Homo sapiens: one gene and its partners. The protein of the gene in region 2 purifies or fractionates together with the protein of the main gene of each other region. This does not show direct contact. Each region holds a gene or a part of one and is shown on either strand. Other genes may lie near its edges.

Region 1 (3,500 bases), on a different chromosome or scaffold from region 2:
AAATTTATTCAAAGTACATTAGAAATAATGAGTGATAAAACTGCATTAATTTGCCATGTGATTTACTGTGGGCAGATATACATATCCCATGTGATGCTATGCCCCCTTAAAGTTTAGGGTACTTCATGGGCTCAGTTACTGCTATAAAAGTTATCTAGTGATCATTATGGCTAGAGCCATCATTCTAAACAAACAAAAATATTATTCCTCAGAGAAAAAGAATACTGTTCATCAACAATTATGAAAATATGATTTTTAAAAAATATTTCAAAATGTGTGTGTGTCCTTGATATAGCTGTTCTTTTTGGGCTTATATTTATTGTTTAAAGAGAAGTCGAATATAGACTTGGTTCAACATGCTGGGTTTTTAATATGCTTTATCTTTTTTTTACTTACAACTTTTTTTTAAGCTGGAAAATCAAATCGCCATAACAAAGATTTGACTTTCTCTGCAGAGAAAAGTCACTGTCTTTCTCTTTCTCACTATGGCAGTTTTAGGTACTATTTTAATTAATTTTAATAAATTTGATTTTAAATAATACTCTTCCCTTTGGAATTCCATAATCTACGTTTCCCTCCAGAATGGTGAAGTACAAGAAATTACTTTTATTAGAGAGGCATTATTTATAGAGAATACAGAATATTTTGAAGTTGGCATTCCCTAATAGAGAAAAGCTTAAGAAAAAAATCTCTGTATTCAAATATGGAAATTTTGAATTTTTTTAGAACATATGTTTAAGAACAATTTAAGAGGTCAGTTGAATAGTAAGAATTTTAACCTCCTATTCATTAAGTAGGAATAGCTCTTTTGCTCTGCATCTTACATACAATAGTAACATGGGCACAAAGACACTTGGAGATAGCATAAACAAGTGACCTAAACCTCTCTGAGCTTCAGTTTCCTCATCAGTAAAATAGGGAGATAATAATTCTACCTATTGCCCTATTTCAGAAGGTTGTTGAGAAGATTGAGATAATGAATTTAAAGGAGTAATTTGCCCAAGTCATCCAGCTTTCGTTGGTAAAGCCAGGGATGAAACCCAGGTCTTGCAGACCATAAAGCACCCAGTCTTAACATTGAATAGTTAAGTTATGATAGTTACCTCAACAGATTCATCAGGATTAAATGAGGTTGCAGTGAGCCGAGATCACGCCATTGCACTCCAGCCTGGGCAACAAGAGCAAAACTCCATCTTAAAAAAAAAAAAAAGAAAGAAAAGATAAATTCTTAGCATGGTGTTTGATGTATAGTAAAATCACTTAATAAATGTGAGCAATTATTCTCTGTTAACTCTGAGACCTAAAGATATCAGAGATTTTGAGGATTATCCAGTTCAACCCACACATTTTACAGATAAAGCTAGGGCCCTGAGAGGGTAAGAGCTTGCCTGTAAAGGAAGTTTCCATTATAATTAGATGGAACAAGGGTTTCTGACTCCCCAGTGCAATGCTGAGGCCTCAGTGCTATTTTTTGCCAACATAGACTCAACTGGAGCTGGAGTAAATGCCTGTGCTTGTGAGGTAAAATTGGACTGTGTTCCTCAGAATCCTTTCTGAGCTCCTGTCTTTTCTGCTAGTCTCCATTGGATAAAATGTGCTTGTTATTAGAGAGGTATTTTCAGATGTCAGAGCTGAGGAAGGGGGGAAAGGTTTTTGTTCACTGTTAATGAGACATGACCTTTTCTTTCTTAAAGGAGAAAAGGCTTCTGGCCTCCCCCTAGGCTGTAGATGAAAAATACTCATTTTAAGAAACATTTAATGATCAACATGTATTCACCTAGAGTTTGTCAAGATTAGTACAGTGTTTTCTACCTGAGTGCTCATGATTGCAGATCACTTCTGCCTAAAGTCTATGTAAGTTACTGCTAAACCACAATGTCCTGGTAGAAGACATCAGGTATTAGGCCACCAAAACTGTGGCCCAAGTGCTATTTTTACCAGTAGTGTTCTGGGATATTATGAGTTCTGAGTTACAAGAATTTTTTCACAGTTACTTGCAGGTGATATTTTTAAATGCTGTCTTTGTAGTTGCATGGACCCTTTGACATGACGTGTTAATTTGGATGGGAATATTTAATTGATATTTGATATAACATGACTTGTCTTCCATTGATTTTCAGTCATGTAAATATTTTACTTTTTCTTCTAAAAACGTATAAGTGAAGAGAATGTATGATACTGTTAATGAAAAATAGAAATGAAATTTAAATTTTAGATGTATATTATATGCATTTTAAAGAAATAGTATTATATAGATATCAGAAAGATATGTAGTTGTATTTGTGCTGAATCTTTTCTGCCTTTGTTATATATAACATATATTCAAATCCAAATAAGTATATTTAAAATAATAAATGTTCATTGTATATATTTTAGAATTTACACAAAAATTGGTCTTTTAATGTCATCCTCATAGTTCTTGTGCAATACTGTTTTAGTCCATTCCCAGAAGTTGCAGAATCAGTTCAGCAAGAACTAGAATCTTACAGAGCACAGGAAGATGAGGTCAAACGACTTAAAAGCATTATGGTAAGATTCTATTTGCTTTCTAAGAATTATAGGAAAGAGGAGGATTATCTGTTAGATAAAGAGATTTGGGTTTTTTTCCTTATAAAAATTGAAGGCCATTTAATGCTTTTATAACAAAAATATTTTCAACTTGCGTAAGTGATCAAAAAGAAATCTAAATATTGAGAAGAGAAAAAATAATATATGATTTGAAAAAATATATAATGTAGCATCATTTTAGAGATGTATGTTCCAATGCTGCTCATTCTACCATACTTCGATGTAACTTCAGATTTCAGCTCTACTGTTTATTGCTGTGTGACCTATGGCACGTCTCTGGGCCTGTCTCCTTATCCAAAAATGCCAGCTGATCATTTAGACATCTAACCATTAGACTGGCGATTACTAGAACTTTTATGTAACATTAAAATATATATGCTTGCACCTCAGAGGAGGAGAATTACTATTCTAGGTGACTTAAAAATCTTACGGTATATCAATAATCTTAGGATATTTGCTCCAATCTTAGGATGTGTTGATTTTTATGCTTGTGCCTGGGATTTTTGAGTAGCTATTGAGACCTTTTTTCTTTACAAGGGACTAGAAGGGGAAGATGAAGGAGCCATAAGTATGCTTTCTGACAATACCGCTAAGCTAACATCAGCTGTTAGGTAAGTGAGCAGTATATCCTCTTTGAAGTCTTTCTGTTGATAGGATTTTTTTTTTATTTAACTAAAAAATTGTTAATGTTTTTAACTAGTAGGAAACTGTAGGCAATAGCAAATATAACTTTGAATTTAAAGAACTAAATTGTATTTAGCTAAATGTTTAAGCCGATTTTAGTTCCCTCTTAGATATAGGAGATTATTCATTCTTTCACCAGTTAGAACTGTGTAATAGGGGTAATTTTATGAGGAAAATACTATTAATGATAAAGTAGGGCAAGCGATTATTAATTTTATTATAGATACTGTTTTCTTAACTAAAAGTTA
Region 2 (3,500 bases):
CCATCAGGGACCCTATGCAGGGTACACAGGTGTTGTCAGGACATCTCCTGGGATGGGCTGCCATTCCAAGGAGGGAGGGACATCTGCTGACCTCCACTGAGGCTCTGGTACTCTGAACCCCAGGGCTTCATTGTGGAAACAAATGACTAGTCCCTTCCTGCTGCCTCAAAGCCCTCACCTCCCCAATGATGGTGACACCTCATGTGTATTCTGTCAGAAACTGGGATGAGCAGACCCAGGTCCAGGAACTTTGCATTGAGCAGTAAAGGGAAGTCAGAGTCAGAAAGTATAGAGAGAGGAAGGAGAATTTAAGGCCACAGGGCTGAGAACCACAGACTGTCAGAATCAAAAGGGGCTTTAAGATAATTTAATGCAAACCACTTATTTTAGAGGTATGGAAATGAAGTCCAGGGTCTCACATAACCAGTAAGTGCAGGGCCAATGCAACAACCAGGTGGCTGGATTCCTAGACACTGTTCTTTCCAGGACTCAGCACAATGAATAAATCATGTGTAGAATGGTAGGAAACCCTGTTTTCTCCCCCAAGCCCAATGCAAGACCCTGCCAACAGCTTTCACCTTGGTCTAGGGGATCTCTATTTGTAGAGAACAGCAAGAATAACTTTTTTTTTTAAAGACTGAGTCTCACTCTGTTGTCCAGGCTAGAGTGCAGTGGCATGATCTTGGCTCACTGCAACCTCTGCCTCCCGATTCAAGCGATTCCCCTGCCTCAGCCTCTCAAGTAGCTGGGACTACAGGCACCCACCACCATGCCTGGCTATTTTTTGTATTTTTAGTAGAGATGGGGTTTTGCCATGTTAGCCAGGCTGATCTTGAACCCCTGACCTCAGGTGATCTGCTCACCTCGGCTTCTCAAAGTGCTGAGATTACAGGCATAAGCCACTGTGCCTGGCCAGAATAAATCTTTTTCTAAAACAAGAGTGCCGGCCTGGAATGGTGGCTCACACCTGTAATCCCGGCACTCTGGGAGGCTGAGGCAGGAGGATTGCTTGAGCCCAAGAGTTTGAGTCCAGCCTGGGCAATATAGCAAGACCCCACTTCTACAAAAAATTTTTTTAAACAATTAGCTGGGCACGGTGGCACGTGCCTGTAGTCCCAGCTACTCAGGAGGCTGAAGTAGGAGGACTGTTTGAGCCCAGGAGGTCCAGGCTGCAGTGATCACGCCATTACACTGCTGCCTGGGCGACAGAACAAGACCCTATCTCAAAAAGAAAAAAAAAGTAATAAAACAAGAGTGCTCAAATGGTCATAAGCAGGAAGATGACTGGTTGAGCTGATAAGAGTCCCCACAACAAAGAGTCTTGGCCACCTCTTAGCACAATCAGCTAAACCAAGATTTCCCCCATTCACAACCTTAGATTGAGTTGGCAATGGATATAGTGGTCATTTCCCTTCCAGGACTCTGCACCTGCTTCCCTTGCCCCAACTGCACAGATACCCAGCTCCAAGCAGCCCTATTTAGACACCCACACCCAGAAACGATGAAAGAAATCATCACTGTTTACAGAGCCCCCAGTCCATTATGGTGGTGTGATGGTTTCTAGCAAATACACACTTACCAGGCCACTTGGGAGTGACCGTGTGATTTCCAGCTCACCTGTCTATCTCACCGAGTAATGAGAGCCCCCCTCCAGACCCACAGTCACACTGTCCCTGTGCCCTCAATTAGCACTGGACAAACACATCCTTCTGCCCCATTCCTTGGCCCAGAACTGGCTCTGACGTCCATGCTGGCTGCACACTCACTGTTGCGTTCTTCCTCCACACCCTCTGCCCGGCCGGCCCTGCCCCTGAGCAGCCTAGTCAGTGGCAGCTGGGTATGGCTGAGAGCTGGGGTTGGGGATGGAAACCCGTGGCTCACCTCGGCTACTGGCCATGGAGCAGCTCTGGGCACCCCCAGTCCTGCCTCGTCTCTCCCTGAAACTCCCAAAGTGGTGGGGGTCTTCCCAGAACACTGCGAGGCATGACCTCCCAGGGCCAAGGATAGAATCCTAGATACCTTTGTTATCCCATCCCCTCACCATGCAGCTAAGCAAGCTACTGGTAGGTGCTCAGAAAATAAAGGGAAAACGTCAAATGTACTGTCCCAAACAGCAGGACGACTCTGAGAAAGGGTCTGAAGAATTCTTAAGTTGCCCAAAGGTCCAAGTCGGGTAGAAGGTGTGAGGACGTCGGGGGAACTGCAGGTTTGCTCCCACCCGCACCCGGTTCCCTATCCCTCCAGCCAGGGATGAGAGGGAGCTGCTGCAGCCCTGCAGAAAGGGAAGAGTGCTGCCAAGAAGGCCAGGGGATGGTGAGGCAGAAAAGGCAGTCCTTTCTCAAATGAAGGGACCAACAGTGTAACGGTCTACTTTGGTAAGGTGTTTACAAAAGACTCTTATACATTTAATCCTCACAAAAGATCTGGGAGGTAGGTGGTCACACCTCCATTCATCCATTCATTCATTCACTCATTTATTTTTGAGATGGAGTCTCATTCTGTCGCCCAGGCTGGAGTGCAGTGGTGCGATCTCCGCTCACTGCAACCTCTGCCTTCCGGGTTCAAGCGATTCTCCTGCCTCAGCCTCCTGAGTAGCTGGGATTGCAGGTGCCCACCACCACACCTGGCTGATTTTTGTATTTTTAGTAGAGATGGGGTTTCACCATGTTAGCCAGGCTGGTCTCAAACTCCTGACCCCAGGTGATCCACCTGCCTTGGCCGCCCAAAGTGTTGGGATTATAGGTGTGAGCCACGGCACCCAGCCTACACCCCCATTTAATGATGAGTCTTTGAGAGATGAGATGACTTGGTAAGGAGTGCAGTTGGAACTGAACCCAGGCCTTCTCTCAAGGAGGACCAAGGAGGCCAGGGTATTCCTGGCATGGGCTGAGATGGGCTCAGAGGTCAGTGGCACCAGGAGGCCCCTGTGGCTGCTCCCCTGCTGGGTGTTCCTGCCCAAGTGAGGCCCCAAAGGGCCTGCATATCAAAGGACATTCCCTAGACTAATGCACTTCCTCTCTGTCTTTACTCCCCCAAATTCCATCATTCTGCTCCTTGTCACCTCGTGGGGATGGCAGACAGCAATATTCCTGGGAAAGAAACAGAGAAGTGTGTGTTTTCACTCTTCATGACTTGCCAACAGTCACACAACAAGCTAGAGGCAGAGCTGGAATGAAAAGCCAAGTCCCTGACTTCTAGCCCCATAGTTCTGGAAGCCTGCAGCCTTGGAGAAAGATGGATTCAAGTCCCCCAGACTGTGCCCATCAAGCCTGAGGGACTACCAAGTGACAGGGCAGCAGTAGGGGTGAGTAGGTGGTATGTAGATCTGCAGTCCCTGACGGTTCATTTCAGAAGAGTGGTGCCCAGGGATTCCTTTGCCCACAGATGATCAGGCCCCCTGTGCCTGCAGCAACTCCAAGGTGGTATAAGGCTTTGGAGCAAGCATAGAGCAAGCCTGCTTTTCCAGCCCAAGTGACCCTTTGGGCAGGAAGGACCCAGAC
Region 3 (3,500 bases), on a different chromosome or scaffold from region 2:
ATGCCCGTGGATCCCAAAATCTCTACCTACTCAAGTCCCGCAGCTGGCCCTGCAGAACACATGGATGCAAAAAGCCAGCCCTCCGCATATGCAGGTTTCACATCCTGCTGTATTCTCTGTCTGCATTTGGTTGTGGATGCAGAGCCCACCGACATGGAGGCAGACTGCATCTGTGAAAAAAAAATCTGCACAGCTCAAATCTGTGTTGTTTGAGGGCCAAGTGTCCATGAATATGGCAAAAAGTTCACAAGGGTATTTACAGTGAAAAAAGCATAAACTGTGGCTTAATTCTCTGGAGGCAACCACAGGTACCAGAGTCTTACATATCCTTATGATGTGTACATAGATAATGTGTATGTATGTGTGTTTAAAACACATGGCAGCAAGCTACAGACACCACTCTGTACTTTGTTTCACTTACTTTATAATTGAAGATCATCTGATATCAGCACATTTAGTTCTATCCTCATTTCTTTTTAATGGTTGGGCAAAACTCCATTATTTAAACCAGTCCATTACTGAACACTTGGATATTTCCAGTCTTTTGCTTCTAAAAATAATGCTTCACTGACTACCACTGAACATACACGTATACGTGAGTGCATAATTTGTTCTGTATAATAACATTTTTAGGCCGGGCGTGGTGGCTCACGCCTGTAATCCCAGCACTTTGGGAGGCCGAGGCGGGTGGATCATGAGGTCAGGAGATCAAGACCATCCTGGCTAACAAGGTGAAACCCCGTCTCTACTAAAAATACAAAAAATTAGCCGGGCGCGGTGGCGGGCGCCTGTAGTCCCAGCTACTCGGGAGGCTGAGGCAGGAGAATGGCGTGAACCCGGGAAGCAGAGCTTGCAGTGAGCCGAGATTGCGCCACTGCAGTCCGCAGTCCGGCCTGGGCGACAGAGCGAGACTCCGTCTCAAAAAAAAAAAAAAAAAAAAAAAAAAAAAATAACATTTTTAGCACTTAAATTGCTGGGTCATAATTCTGATGGGTATCACAAAACTGCCCTTCCACCAACATATGAGAGGTTCCTGTTTTTCTATACTCTTGCTAACAGTATATTCTATTCTCAACCTCTTTGCTTTTTTTCTCCCAAAGTGACGGGTAAAAAAAGGACATTCCACTATATTTTAAAGTTGTACTTCCCTTTTTATAAGTGAGACCGAGCCTCTCTTCCAGTTTAAAGGCCATTTGTGTTTCCTTTCTACGACATGCCAGTTGCTGTTTTTGGGCCATTTTCCCTAGGCTTTTGTCCTGTAAGAGCTGTGCTAATACAGACACCATACTTCCCAGGGCCTCTGATGCCAACAGATGATCACCACAAGGACTGTTACAATATAGCTTTCTATCTTGGATTGCCAGTGTCTGCATCTCTTCCCCACTCCCCTTAGGTTCAAATAGTTTTTATAGTGTGTTCTACAACCTACTCGAAACATCGATTAGAAAAGTATATATATGCTATGAGAATGTTCAACGTTGCCTTTTAAAACCTCAAACACCCTCAATCTTAACATATATTTTCATTAGTATTTTAAAAATATTTGCCATACAAATTGTCTCTTCAAATCTATAATTTTCTAATGACTTAGAAATGGCAGGCACAGGCTGGGCATTTTACATATGTGATTTCATTTCATCTTTACAATAATCCTATGAAGCAGGTATTCTTGTTCCCATTTCCAAATGGAAGCTAACTGAAATACCCAAGCCCTAGTTACTGTGTTCAGAAACCATGGTTCCCAGGAAACTATGATAGGGCATGCTATGGACTGAATGCTTGTGTCACCCCAAAATTCATATACTGAAACCCGAATTCCTTATGTGATGGCAATAAGAGATGGGGCCTTTGGGTCGTAATTACGTCACTAGGGTAGGGTTGTCATAATGGAATTAGTATCCTAAGAAGAATCAGGAGAGCTATCTCTCTCTCTCTGTCATGTGAGGATGCAGCAGGAAGGTATAAGGAAATCCAGCAAATCAGGAAGAAAGCCCTCTCCAGAATCATTTTGTCTAAGACCTTGATCTTGGACTCGCCAGCCTCCAGAACTGTGAGAAATAACTTTGTTATTTAAGCAAAACACACATACACACACATACACACACACACACACACACACACACTTGCCCTAGTCCTAACCTTAGAAAAAATTCGTATCCTGAATAGAATCCTGTAGTACTCACTTTGTACAGATATCTTAGACCTAAAGGAATCTGACAATGTCTTAAAAAGTTAAGAAGCTTAAGACAGCAACGACACTGTCTTAAGACCTACAGCAAAATAACAGAACAAATCTCAAACTTTTTTTTTAACCTAGTACTTTCTGGATCAGGGTTATAAATCTACAAGCACATGCAGCACTTGCTAGAATCATAAATTCTTAGGCCCCATTCCAGACCAAATGAATCCAAATCTCTAGGGGTAAGACCCAAGAATGTGTGTTTATCAAGATTTACAGGCAGTTCTTTTGCCTATTGGAGCTTGAGAGGCACACTATAGAGCCTAGATACTTGCAGGCTGAAGAAAGACCCCACTTGGAGGCCTTTAAGATTCTGTGCTACCTCAGCCCAGTGAGCAGTCTTTCTAGATACTGGAGCTGGTCTAGGGCAGTGGGATGAAATGTACTTGCAGGTGTTCCACATCTGGTCTTCAGGAAGGGCCACTCTGAACAAAGCGAGAAGACAAGAAAGGAGGGCAGAGTGTTTACTTTCCTTTCTTTCTCTTTCAGGAGAAAACAAAGGTTGAGGGTGGGGAGTGGAGAGTGGCAGGAGAGATTTTAAAACGCTCTTATCTGGGGGCTTCTTCATCTTGGGAGGTACCCTTATTTTTAAGAACTTAAGTGGGGTTGGGTAGATGTCAGGTCAGAGGTAAGAACGGTTTAGTGCTGGAATCTTGGGACTCACACGATTCCTTCTAAATTATCCAAAGACTCAATAGGATAAGGGGGGAAAAAAGTCAGGAATGCCATCAGTGCTTTAAAAAGAAAAAAAGTACATTTAGCTGTAGTGTCTCATGTTTTAATGTCTCTTGGGAAGCTAAGGACAAGGTGAACTAAAATTCCTAACATGTATCTGAGTATTCAGGGATGATAAAAATCAACAAGGATTAAACCTCTATTTGAAAGTTTCATAGACTCTCCAGACAAAATGGAGCCAAGTTAAAGCAAACCAACCTATTTTAACATGATGCAGTAGTAAAGAGTCACGTGTTACCTTGTCAACATTAGCTCGTGTTTTAGCAGATGTTTCCACGTAGTTAACATTCCACTGCTCAGCTCTGTTTTTTGCCTCTTCTACAGAAACCTGTCTTTTATCTTCTAAATCTGATTTGTTACCAACCAGTAGAAATGGAACATTCTCATCTTCTTTTACTCTTAAAATCTGCTCCCTGGATAAGAGAAAATGAAAAAGAAATATTAACATTATAAGGATAGCACAGAAAGTTCTTGTTTGCCCCATACCTATTTTTCCCTATTGTTAACATCTACTACTGTGGTACAC
Region 4 (3,500 bases), about 210 Mb from region 2:
AGTATAATAATATACCATAAACAGTATCATAACATAGTCCCTAAAACTTTAGTACTTATGATATATACACATGGTTCTGAGCCTTTCAAATTATTCCCACATTTAATCCCCACAACAGTCCTATGAGGTAGCTTCTATTTTCTTCCTGCTTTACAACAAGGAGACAGAGGCTCAGAGAGGTTAGGCCCCTTGCCCAGGGGCACAGTGACAGGTGAGTGGCTGAGTCCCTCTCAAGGGATCCTTCTGACCTGGTTATGAAATGGTGAGTCTCTGGTATTACAACAATCATTTTCTTCTCAGAAATATACTTTTATTTTCTCCTCTTGGTCTCCATCACCTACGCATCCCTGTCCTAAAGTTAAAATTACTCGGAATAAACCAATGTTTGATGGCCCTTGCCACAGTTCACAGCAAAGCACACACTGACTTTGCAACAAAAATGGCTGCACAGGGAATAATCAGCTGACTTCAATGACTCAGAGAAACTTCTACATTCAGACACCTCAGAGGACCCCTCTAATTTCTGGTCGGTCGCCCTGTCAATCAGCAAACTCACGGCCCTCAGGTTGAAATGTGTTGTCCACCTGGAGTAGGCACTGTAACCCTTGGCCATTGTCTCCAGGATGCAGAATATTTATTCAGAGGCCAAAAGCAGTGCTTTGTGCTTTACTTCCATCTCCTAGTAATGGCTCAGAAAGACAAGGAAGGCCGGCGCAGTGGCTCCCGCCTGTAATCCCAGCACTTCTGGAGGCCGAGGCAGGTGGATCACCTGAGGTCAGGAGTTCAAGACCAGTCTGCCCAACATGGCGAAACCCTGTCTCTACTAAAAATACAAAAAATTAGCCGGGTATAGTGGTGCATGCCTATAATCCCATCTACTCAGGAGGCTGAGGCAGGAGAATCGCCTGAACCAGGAGGCAGAGGTTGCAGTGAGCTGAGATTGCGCCACTGCACTCCAGTCTGGGCAACAAGAGCAAAACTCTGACTCAAAAAAAAAAAAAAAAAAAAAAAAAAGACAAGGAAAGCGGGTTTTGTTGTTTGTTTTACTTTCTAATGGAAGATTTGCTAGATTCCTTTCAAAAGACTTTCTAGAGAGCCAATCATTTCAGTAAGCTACTTTTAGATTAACACCATTTTATACAGTAGTCAGTATATGGAATATAATATATGAAATTTATATTTGTTTTTTCCTTCAATACACATGGCCTAGCACTCTACCTCACTGCCATAATCTTACATATGGAGGCACAGGCAGATAAAGTGACTTGTCCCAAGTCACACAGCCAGCTAAGGGCTGACCTGACCCTTCCCGTCTCCTCAGTCTGACATGAGGACCCCACAGTGTGCCTACCTTGCTCACCCTTCAGTATCCATTCCACTAACTAGAAAACTGATTTTGCAAATACTATTTTAACAGGGGGGCAGGAATTAACAAACTAAGTAGAATGACTAGTTTTTTTTAATGTAAACCTATTTTTTGCTTATTAATGCTGTACTAAAAACATCAAACAGAAGTGAACTTCTTTTGAGAGACAGAGTCTCTGTCGCCCAAGCTGGAGTACCGTGGCGTGAACACAGCTCATTGCAGCCTCAACCTCCCAGGTTCAAGTGACCCTCCCACCTTAACCTCCCAAGTAGCTGAAACTATAGGCATGCACCACCATACCCAGATAATTTTTAAATTTTTTGTAGAGATGGGGTCTCACTATATTGCCCAGGCTGGTCTCGAACTCCGGGGCTCCAGCAATCCTCCCACTTGAGCTTCCCAACGTGCTGGGTTTACAGACGTGAACGCTGCCTGGCCAGAAGTAAACTTATTACACATTCTGTTTACATTTTGATCAGTGAACTTTTAGTGACATGTGCAGTGAGCCAGCTGTCCCTCTGGTCATCCTAGGAGACTACTGTATCACTCACATCCCATCAGGCAGAGAAAGAAGGTAAGCACCAACGGCCTAAGAACACCAACATCACAGGGCCAAGAACAGAGCTGCCATCTGTAGGCACCAACTTCCTAATTTACATCCAAACGTTGAGGAGAGGGAAGTTGAGTGCCCCGGCCATCCTTGTGCCTCCAGGCCCTCGAGAGGCAAAGTGTTGGTGCAGTCTGCACAGAGCATCCTGGGTAGAGGCAGGAAGCAGCACAGGGCAGGCTCAGGCCAAGGGCTCGAGACTTAACACAAAAGGCAGATCCCCAAATAGCTACTCATGTTTCCTGCATTTTCACAAGTCAAAGACCCTCAAATTACTCCAATCTTGATTTATAAATAATCAGAATTATGATACAACAGCACTTCTCATTACAAAATCATCTCTGAATTTTGTAGAATTTATAGCCCTAAAAGAAATCAAAGTCACTCACTCCAGATACATCTCCTGAGTGCACGCTGGATATGAGGCCTGTACCAGGAACTGGGCGTTGCAGTGATGAGAAGCAGCAGGGGGTGGGTGGTGGAGGACAGACCCAAGCAGGATGAGATTCCCGGGTGGCCAGCACCAGCCAGGACAGAAGAGGCAGAGCTGGGGATCACCGGTGGGAAGGTCAATGCACAGAGACACTGCAAGAGGCAGCCGAGGGATATTTGCTGGGTGTGCAGGGTAAAGGTCTGGGCCAAGACCTACGGTGGTATCCACGCTATCCACAGCTGTGTGACTAGGTACGTCCTCAAGAAACTGAATTCAACGGACGAGACACTGCCCGGGGTCACTGTGCCTGCCAGAGCCCAGCAGCAGGCAGAAGGAACCAGAAAAAGAGAGCCCGGCCCCAGAAGGCAGCAGCTGGTGGAGGAGTGAGAGAGTGGGGGAGGAGGAGGGCATGGAACCAGGAGAAGGGAGTGGAGAAGAGGGGCAGCGGTGCTGCTTCCAGGGCCAGGGAGCAGCATGAAGACAGACAAGGGTCTGCCGCATCTGGAATGGCGAGGCCGTCTCCTTGGCAGGAGCAGTTTCAATAGAGTGGTGCAGATGAAGACAGCTTTTTTCAACCTTACCTAATCGGTATGGTTTTTGTTTTTCATTTAATAGATACCAAAGAATCCACACAATAGCTGAATGGATATAAGTCATATCGTATTACTCCTCTGCTTCAAACCCCCAAACGGCATCTCATCTCATCAGAAGAAAACCCACCAAACGCACCAAGACCTATCCGCCTTCTGCTGTGGCCTCCCCTCCTAGTCCTACCCCCTTCTGCAGTGGCCTCCCTTCCTAGTCCTGCCCTCTTCCACCGCGGCCTCCCCTCCTAGTCCTGCCCCATTCCGCCATGGCCTCCTCTCCTAGTCCTGCTCCATTCCGCTGTGGCCTCCCCTCCCCACACTTTTTCTGGCCACACTGGCTTGGCTGCTGGGCGCACCTTCCCACCACACTCCTGCCTGAAGAGCCTCTGCACCTGCCAAGCCCCTGCCCTCTGCTCACCCCACGGCCCACAGGACCCAATCCTGGCCTCACTTAGGCCTCATCCCGAGAGAGGCCCTTTGTCACCCCTAGCTACTCACCACCCTGTT
Region 5 (3,500 bases), on a different chromosome or scaffold from region 2:
CAAATGCCCATCAGTGATAGACTAGATAAACAAAATATGGCACATATACACCATGGAATACTATGCAGCCATAAACAAGGATGAGTTCATGTCCTTTGTAGGGACATGGATGAAGCTGGAAGCCATCATTCTCAGCAACCTAACACAGGAACAGAAAACCAAACACCACATGTTCTCACTCATAAGTTGGAGTTGAACAATGAGAATACATGGACACAGGGAGGGGAACATCACACACTGGGGCCTTTTTGGGGATGAGGGGCTAGGGGAGGAATAGCATTAGAAGAAATACCTAATGTAGGTGACAGGTTGATGGGTGCAGCAAACCACCATGGCACGTGTATACCTATGTAACAAACCTGCACGTTCTGCACATGTATCCCAGAACTTAAAGTACAATTTTTAAAAAGTAGGCAAAAACAAAAGAAAAGAAAAGTAATATACAACCGAGACCTAATATTTTAGGCTTGCAACGACAGATATTTTACTATTTAGTCTTTACAGGAAAAGTTTTCCAACTACTGCTTTATAGCAAAAATAATATTGTAGATGTGGAATTTATTGATATAGCAGAGGGGTTTTTAGTAACTGATGACTTAAGCAAGATAAATACAATTTTCACCGATATGTGGTATGCATGCTAATACAGCTTTTTTTAAGCATCTTAATATGATTGTTTATATTACTCCACACACCTCTCAAAAAAACTTAATACCTATTTTTCCTCTCATATCCTCCATATCAGTTAATAGTATCACCTTCCCAACTCCCCACTGCCCCATCCTGTGTTCCAAGCTAGAAGTATTGGGGTTATCCTTTATACTACCATTTCCCTCACCTTCCAGATGCAGGTGGTCACCAGTCAGTTTTGTTAAGACATCAATAGATTATCTTGCTTCCATTTCCTTGGTCACTTCCTTCATCAGATCCTCCTTGCAGTAAACGGGTCTCTCTGGCTTTGGTCTTAGCCCCCCAATAGAGGTAATACATGAAAGAGAATGTATCAACAAATTGTACAGTCTTTTGAGTGACAATATGTGCTAGGTATTTGTTCCATGTAAAATTACTTCATTTGAATCCCATGATGATAGAGTTAATATGAACAATCATATTTTGTTTTTTTTTATATCCAGGTTATGAAAACCAGGCTGGCTGTAGGCAAAACTGGGCAGTACTCTGGAATATATGATTGTGCCAAGAAGATTTTGAAACATGAAGGCTTGGGAGCTTTTTACAAAGGCTATGTTCCCAATTTATTAGGTATCATACCTTATGCAGGCATAGATCTTGCTGTGTATGAGGTGAGTTTGTAGAAATCTTTTGAATTGGAAAATGCAGTTAGATCTTGTTAGAATTGGACTTTATATGAAGAAGTAGATATATACCAGAAAACAGTGTGTGACCAGAAGTAAATTCAAGCATGTGTTATTTGAACTTTCAAGTAACTTGAGTGTGAATATGCATGGGGTCACTTTTGTATTAGATTTTCTTGGGAATTGCTTTTGTTAATGAAGAGTAGACTCAAAGTTAGGTATAGTTGTTCACCTTAAAAGGTGTTTCTAGAGATTTTTTCCTTTGTTTTGGATTTGCAAAAATCTGACATTAAGCCAAGTGACTAATGTGACTAACATGAGTAATACAGTTTCATTCCTTGTACGGAAGAATACAAATCTTGGATCAACCCTGCAATCTAAATCATTTAATAATTTATGAATCTCACAAACAATTATTGAGCACACACTATACAAACCACTAGGTTAGACACTGGATCTGGGGATTCAAAGGACTCAATGTGTGCCTTGAAGAAACTGAAGGTCTGGTGGGGGAGACAAACGACTAAAACTCAGCGTGGTTATCTGTGCTGCGACAGACATGAGCCAGGGTGCATGTTAGGATGAGACCTAAGCTACAGCGTAGAGGAAGAGTGGAATGTGTAATGAAAAGAAGAGTCGAATTTTTTTTTTAAAGAGCTTTATTGAGATTTAGTTCATATTCCTTACATTTCACTCATTTGAAGTGTACAAGCAAATGGTTTTTGGCTTCTTACATAATTTTTAAAAATTATTATAAAATATAAAATTTGCCATTTTACTAATTTTAAGTGTACAATTCAGTGGCATTAATTACATTCACAATATTGTGCAACCATCAACACTATTTCCAAATCCTTTTCCTCACTCCAAACAGAAACACCTTAACCTTTAAGCAATAACTTCCTACCCTCCGTAACTCAAACCTTTGGTAACCTCTAATCTGCTTTCTATGTCTAGGAATTTACCCATTCAAGATATCTTATAAGTAGAATCATACAGTATTTTTCTTTTTGTGTCTGATTTATTACTCTTAGCATAATGTCTCTAAGGTTTGTTCATGTTGTAGCATGTATCAGAACTTCATTTCTTTTCATGGCTGAGTAATATTCCGTTATGTGTATATACCACATTTTGTTTAGTCCTTCATCTGTTGAAGAGCATTTGGATTATTTCTACTTTTCCAACATTGTGAATAATGCTGCAGTGAACATTGGCATCTGCGTATCTGTTCGAGTCTATGCCTTCAATTCCTTTGGGTATATATCTCAGAATGGAATTGCTGAGCCATATGGTCATTCTGTGTTTAGCTTTTAGGAACTATCAGACTGTTTTCCATAGTGGCTGCACTTACATTCTCACCAGCAACATACAAAGGTTCCAGTTTTTCCACGTCCTTATTAACACTTAATTTCCATTTTAAAAAAGCTTATTTTTATTATGGCCGTCCTCTTAGGTGTGAGGTGGTATGGTTCAGGACTTTACTTCTTGTGCTGAGTTTTTTAAAAAATTGTGATTAAAAACACATAACATAAAGTTTATGATTTTAACCATTTTTAAATATATAGTACAGTAAGTGTTAACTGTTTGTGGTTTGTTGTGCAACAGATCTCTAGAACTTTTTCACTTCTCAAAACTTAAACTCTATAGTCATTAAACAACAGCTCCCAATTTCCCCTTCACCCCAGCGCTGTGTAACCTACTTTCTCGTTTTATGAGTTTGACTACATTAAATACCTTGTATAAGTGAAATCATGTGGTATTTCTCTTTCCGTGACTGGCTTATTTCATGTAACATAGTTTCCTCATGATTCATCCATATGATAGCATACAACAGGACTTTTTTGTTTTTAAGGCTGAATAATAATTTGTTGGGTATATATATCACATTTTCTTTATTCATCTGTTGATGGACATTTGGATTGTTTCTACATCTTGACTATTGTGAATAGTGCTGCAGTGAACATGGTTGTGCAAATATCTCTTCAAGATACTGTTTTCAGTTCTTTTTGACATATACTCAGAAGTGGAATTTCTGGGTCAAATGGTAATTCTATTTTTAAGTTTTTGAGGAACCTCCATGTCATTTTCCATAGTAACTAGACCTTTTTGTTTTTTAACATTTCTATCAATGTACACCAAGATTCCAATTTCTCCATGTCCTCCCCAACACCATTAAGTGGGGTGGTG
Region 6 (2,814 bases), on a different chromosome or scaffold from region 2:
GGGCCCTCGGGACTGAGGGTGGGCAGGGCACCCCATCCCCCAGCATCCCCTCCCCCTTCCTCCTCTGCTCCACCTCAGATCTGACTGGGCTCAGGACTGCGGGAGGGACTGACACCCCTCAGGTGATGGCAACTCCCGGCCCTTGAGGGCGTCACCTGGTCTTGGGGGGAGGTCTGCAGGGAGCACCAGGGTCCTTTGGGGAGAGGTGGGGCTGTGGGGCTTGGGGAGCACTGGGTGGACATTGCAGGGGAGGGGCGATCGTGGGTGCCCAGCCCGACCCTTCCTGCAGCCTCTCCCCTCGCCAACTCCTTGGCTTCCCGTGTGCGGAGGTGTCCGGCCTGAGCACGGAGCGTGTCCGGGAGCTGGCTGTGGCCTTGGCACAGAAGAATGTCAAGCTCTCAACAGAGCAGGTCAGTCTCAGTTGGGCTGAGGCAGGTGGGCACAGCTGGGGCTGAGGAATTCACAGGCAGCTCTGCAGTGCCCACCTTGCCACCACGGTCCCCTCTGTCCCTGCTGCCATCTCTCCCCGGCCAGTTCTTCCCAGAGTTCCTCTGGCCACCCAAGCTGACCACTGGGGTGCCTGTCCACGTCAGGGGCTGGCTCCCCAGGAGCAAGTCTGATATGACGCTGTGTGCTGGGCCCCCTCCTGGAGCGCCGTGGGCAGCCCTCCAGGCTCTGCCCCAAGGGTGAATCTTTTTCGGGGGAGTGGGTGAGATCTGGGGAAGGGGAGCGGAGCCAGGCACGGGAGCCCCCATCCCCCAGGGCAGCGCTGCAGGCGGCCAGAGATCCACTTCCACAGATTCTCGTGGCCAGGGCAGGGGTGTGTTGTGGTGGGCAGACTGGCCAGGCGACCCTGGCCCACCATGTGAGTGGCGGCTCGAAACGCTCTGTGCTGGACTCCCTGCCCCTGCAGCTGCGCTGTCTGGCTCACCGGCTCTCTGAGCCCCCCGAGGACCTGGACGCCCTCCCATTGGACCTGCTGCTATTCCTCAAGTAGGCCCTGCCCCCTGAACCCACCCCCCCGGCTTTTGCCGCCAGCCCTCAGCCCCCAACCCCCTGCCCCTTGCCTCGGATCCCAGGCCACAGCAGAGATGTGGAGGCCGGCCGGGCTGCCTCTCAGGGTGGGGACGGGTGTGATCAGTGCGGCCTGTCCCCAGCACCCTCTCTTCACAGCCCAGATGCGTTCTCGGGGCCCCAGGCCTGCACCCGTTTCTTCTCCCGCATCACGAAGGCCAATGTGGACCTGCTCCCGAGGGGGGCTCCCGAGCGACAGCGGCTGCTGCCTGCGGCTCTGGCCTGCTGGGTAGGGGCTGGGGCCAGCGCGGGGCGGAGAGGGCTCGGCAGTTCCAAAAGCGCTGAGGCCAGCCTCTCTGCAGGGTGTGCGGGGGTCTCTGCTGAGCGAGGCTGATGTGCGGGCTCTGGGAGGCCTGGCTTGCGACCTGCCTGGGCGCTTTGTGGCCGAGTCGGCCGAAGTGCTGCTACCCCGGCTGGTGAGCTGCCCGGGACCCCTGGACCAGGACCAGCAGGAGGCAGCCAGGGCGGCTCTGCAGGGCGGGGGACCCCCCTACGGGTAAGTGAAGGTGTCTGGAACCTCGAAGGCTCACCTGGCGGCGTGGTATCAGCAGCGTGAGGACACTTGCGGCCATGCCTCAAGGCCCAGGGTCAGTCACCCCCGCCACCACCCCTGCCAATGCCCCCAGCGTCCCCTCCACAGCCAGGGGGTACGGCCTGGCCTCTTCCCTCTCTGGGGCTGCACGTGGGGGGTCCCTGAGCTGTGTCCCGTGTCTGCACAGCCCCCCGTCGACATGGTCTGTCTCCACGATGGACGCTCTGCGGGGCCTGCTGCCCGTGCTGGGCCAGCCCATCATCCGCAGCATCCCGCAGGTGAGACCCCAATCCCCAGCCCGTGGGGATGCCCGGCCACCCGAGGCTCAGCCCAGGTCCTGCTCGTCCTCAGGGCATCGTGGCCGCGTGGCGGCAACGCTCCTCTCGGGACCCATCCTGGCGGCAGCCTGAACGGACCATCCTCCGGCCGCGGTTCCGGCGGGAAGTGGAGAGTGAGTGCCGTGCCCTGCGCAGTCTGGCACCAGGCTGGGCAGCACCCCTGGGGGTGGGCATCACTTTAGGGTCTCACCTGCCCCTCCCTGGCTCTGCAGCACATCCCATTATAATCACAGAGAGTGGACAGAATCCCTGTTTGCCAGTGGGTAAACTGAGGCACAGGGAGGGTCACAAATGGCCCGAGGTCTCATCTCACAGGAGGTGTGGGAGGAAGAAGGGGTCAAACGAACTCCGGCCCTGACCCCTGACCCCTGTGCCCTGCAGAGACAGCCTGTCCTTCAGGCAAGAAGGCCCGCGAGATAGACGAGAGCCTCATCTTCTACAAGAAGTGGGAGCTGGAAGCCTGCGTGGATGCGGCCCTGCTGGCCACCCAGATGGACCGCGTGAACGCCATCCCCTTCACCTACGAGCAGCTGGACGTCCTAAAGCATAAACTGGATGAGGTAGTTCATGACTCAAGTTCCCACCGGCCTGCTGTGTCCAAGCCATCCCCAGCCCCTCTGGGAGTGACATGGGCCCTCCTGGTCTCTTGGCCTGCAGCTCTACCCACAAGGTTACCCCGAGTCTGTGATCCAGCACCTGGGCTACCTCTTCCTCAAGATGAGCCCTGAGGACATTCGCAAGTGGAATGTGACGTCCCTGGAGACCCTGAAGGCTTTGCTTGAAGTCAACAAAGGGCACGAAATGAGTCCTCAGGTGACCGTCCGGCTCGGGGGTCATGTGGCATGAGATTGGGAAGGGCTGAGGGGCAGA

Evidence for each region.
Region 1: the proteins of MPV17 (region 2) and SCFD1 fractionate together in Homo sapiens (co-fractionation; one large-scale study listed by BioGRID). This does not show direct contact.
Region 3: the proteins of MPV17 (region 2) and RALA fractionate together in Homo sapiens (co-fractionation; one large-scale study listed by BioGRID). This does not show direct contact.
Region 4: the proteins of MPV17 (region 2) and NDUFA10 fractionate together in Homo sapiens (co-fractionation; one large-scale study listed by BioGRID). This does not show direct contact.
Region 5: the proteins of MPV17 (region 2) and SLC25A24 fractionate together in Homo sapiens (co-fractionation; one large-scale study listed by BioGRID). This does not show direct contact.
Region 6: the proteins of MPV17 (region 2) and MSLN fractionate together in Homo sapiens (co-fractionation; one large-scale study listed by BioGRID). This does not show direct contact.

Annotation. Positions count from the first base shown.
Region 1 is NC_000014.9:30,670,819-30,674,318, forward strand, and holds part of SCFD1 (sec1 family domain-containing protein 1), read left to right. Parts: intron 1-2,438; coding exon 2,439-2,529; intron 2,530-3,105; coding exon 3,106-3,179; intron 3,180-3,500. UniProt on the Homo sapiens protein: Plays a role in SNARE-pin assembly and Golgi-to-ER retrograde transport via its interaction with COG4. Involved in vesicular transport between the endoplasmic reticulum and the Golgi.
Region 2 is NC_000002.12:27,313,098-27,316,597, forward strand, and holds part of MPV17 (mitochondrial inner membrane protein Mpv17), read right to left. Parts: intron 13-3,500; coding exon 1-12. UniProt on the Homo sapiens protein: Non-selective channel that modulates the membrane potential under normal conditions and oxidative stress, and is involved in mitochondrial homeostasis.
Region 3 is NC_000007.14:39,696,572-39,700,071, reverse strand, and holds part of RALA (ras-related protein Ral-A precursor), read right to left. Parts: intron 3,388-3,500; coding exon 3,213-3,387; intron 1-3,212. UniProt on the Homo sapiens protein: Multifunctional GTPase involved in a variety of cellular processes including gene expression, cell migration, cell proliferation, oncogenic transformation and membrane trafficking.
Region 4 is NC_000002.12:240,001,343-240,004,842, forward strand, and holds part of NDUFA10 (NADH dehydrogenase [ubiquinone] 1 alpha subcomplex subunit 10, mitochondrial isoform 1 precursor), read right to left. Parts: intron 1-3,500. UniProt on the Homo sapiens protein: Accessory subunit of the mitochondrial membrane respiratory chain NADH dehydrogenase (Complex I), that is believed not to be involved in catalysis. Complex I functions in the transfer of electrons from NADH to the respiratory chain.
Region 5 is NC_000001.11:108,141,344-108,144,843, reverse strand, and holds part of SLC25A24 (mitochondrial adenyl nucleotide antiporter SLC25A24), read left to right. Parts: intron 1-1,133; coding exon 1,134-1,301; intron 1,302-3,500. UniProt on the Homo sapiens protein: Electroneutral antiporter that mediates the transport of adenyl nucleotides through the inner mitochondrial membrane. Originally identified as an ATP-magnesium/inorganic phosphate antiporter, it also acts as a broad specificity adenyl nucleotide antiporter.
Region 6 is NC_000016.10:763,734-766,547, forward strand, and holds part of MSLN (mesothelin isoform 1 preproprotein), read left to right. Parts: intron 1-289; coding exon 290-410; intron 411-913; coding exon 914-993; intron 994-1,173; coding exon 1,174-1,303; intron 1,304-1,376; coding exon 1,377-1,570; intron 1,571-1,793; coding exon 1,794-1,884; intron 1,885-1,957; coding exon 1,958-2,057; intron 2,058-2,325; coding exon 2,326-2,504; intron 2,505-2,601; coding exon 2,602-2,757; intron 2,758-2,814. UniProt on the Homo sapiens protein: Membrane-anchored forms may play a role in cellular adhesion. Megakaryocyte-potentiating factor (MPF) potentiates megakaryocyte colony formation in vitro.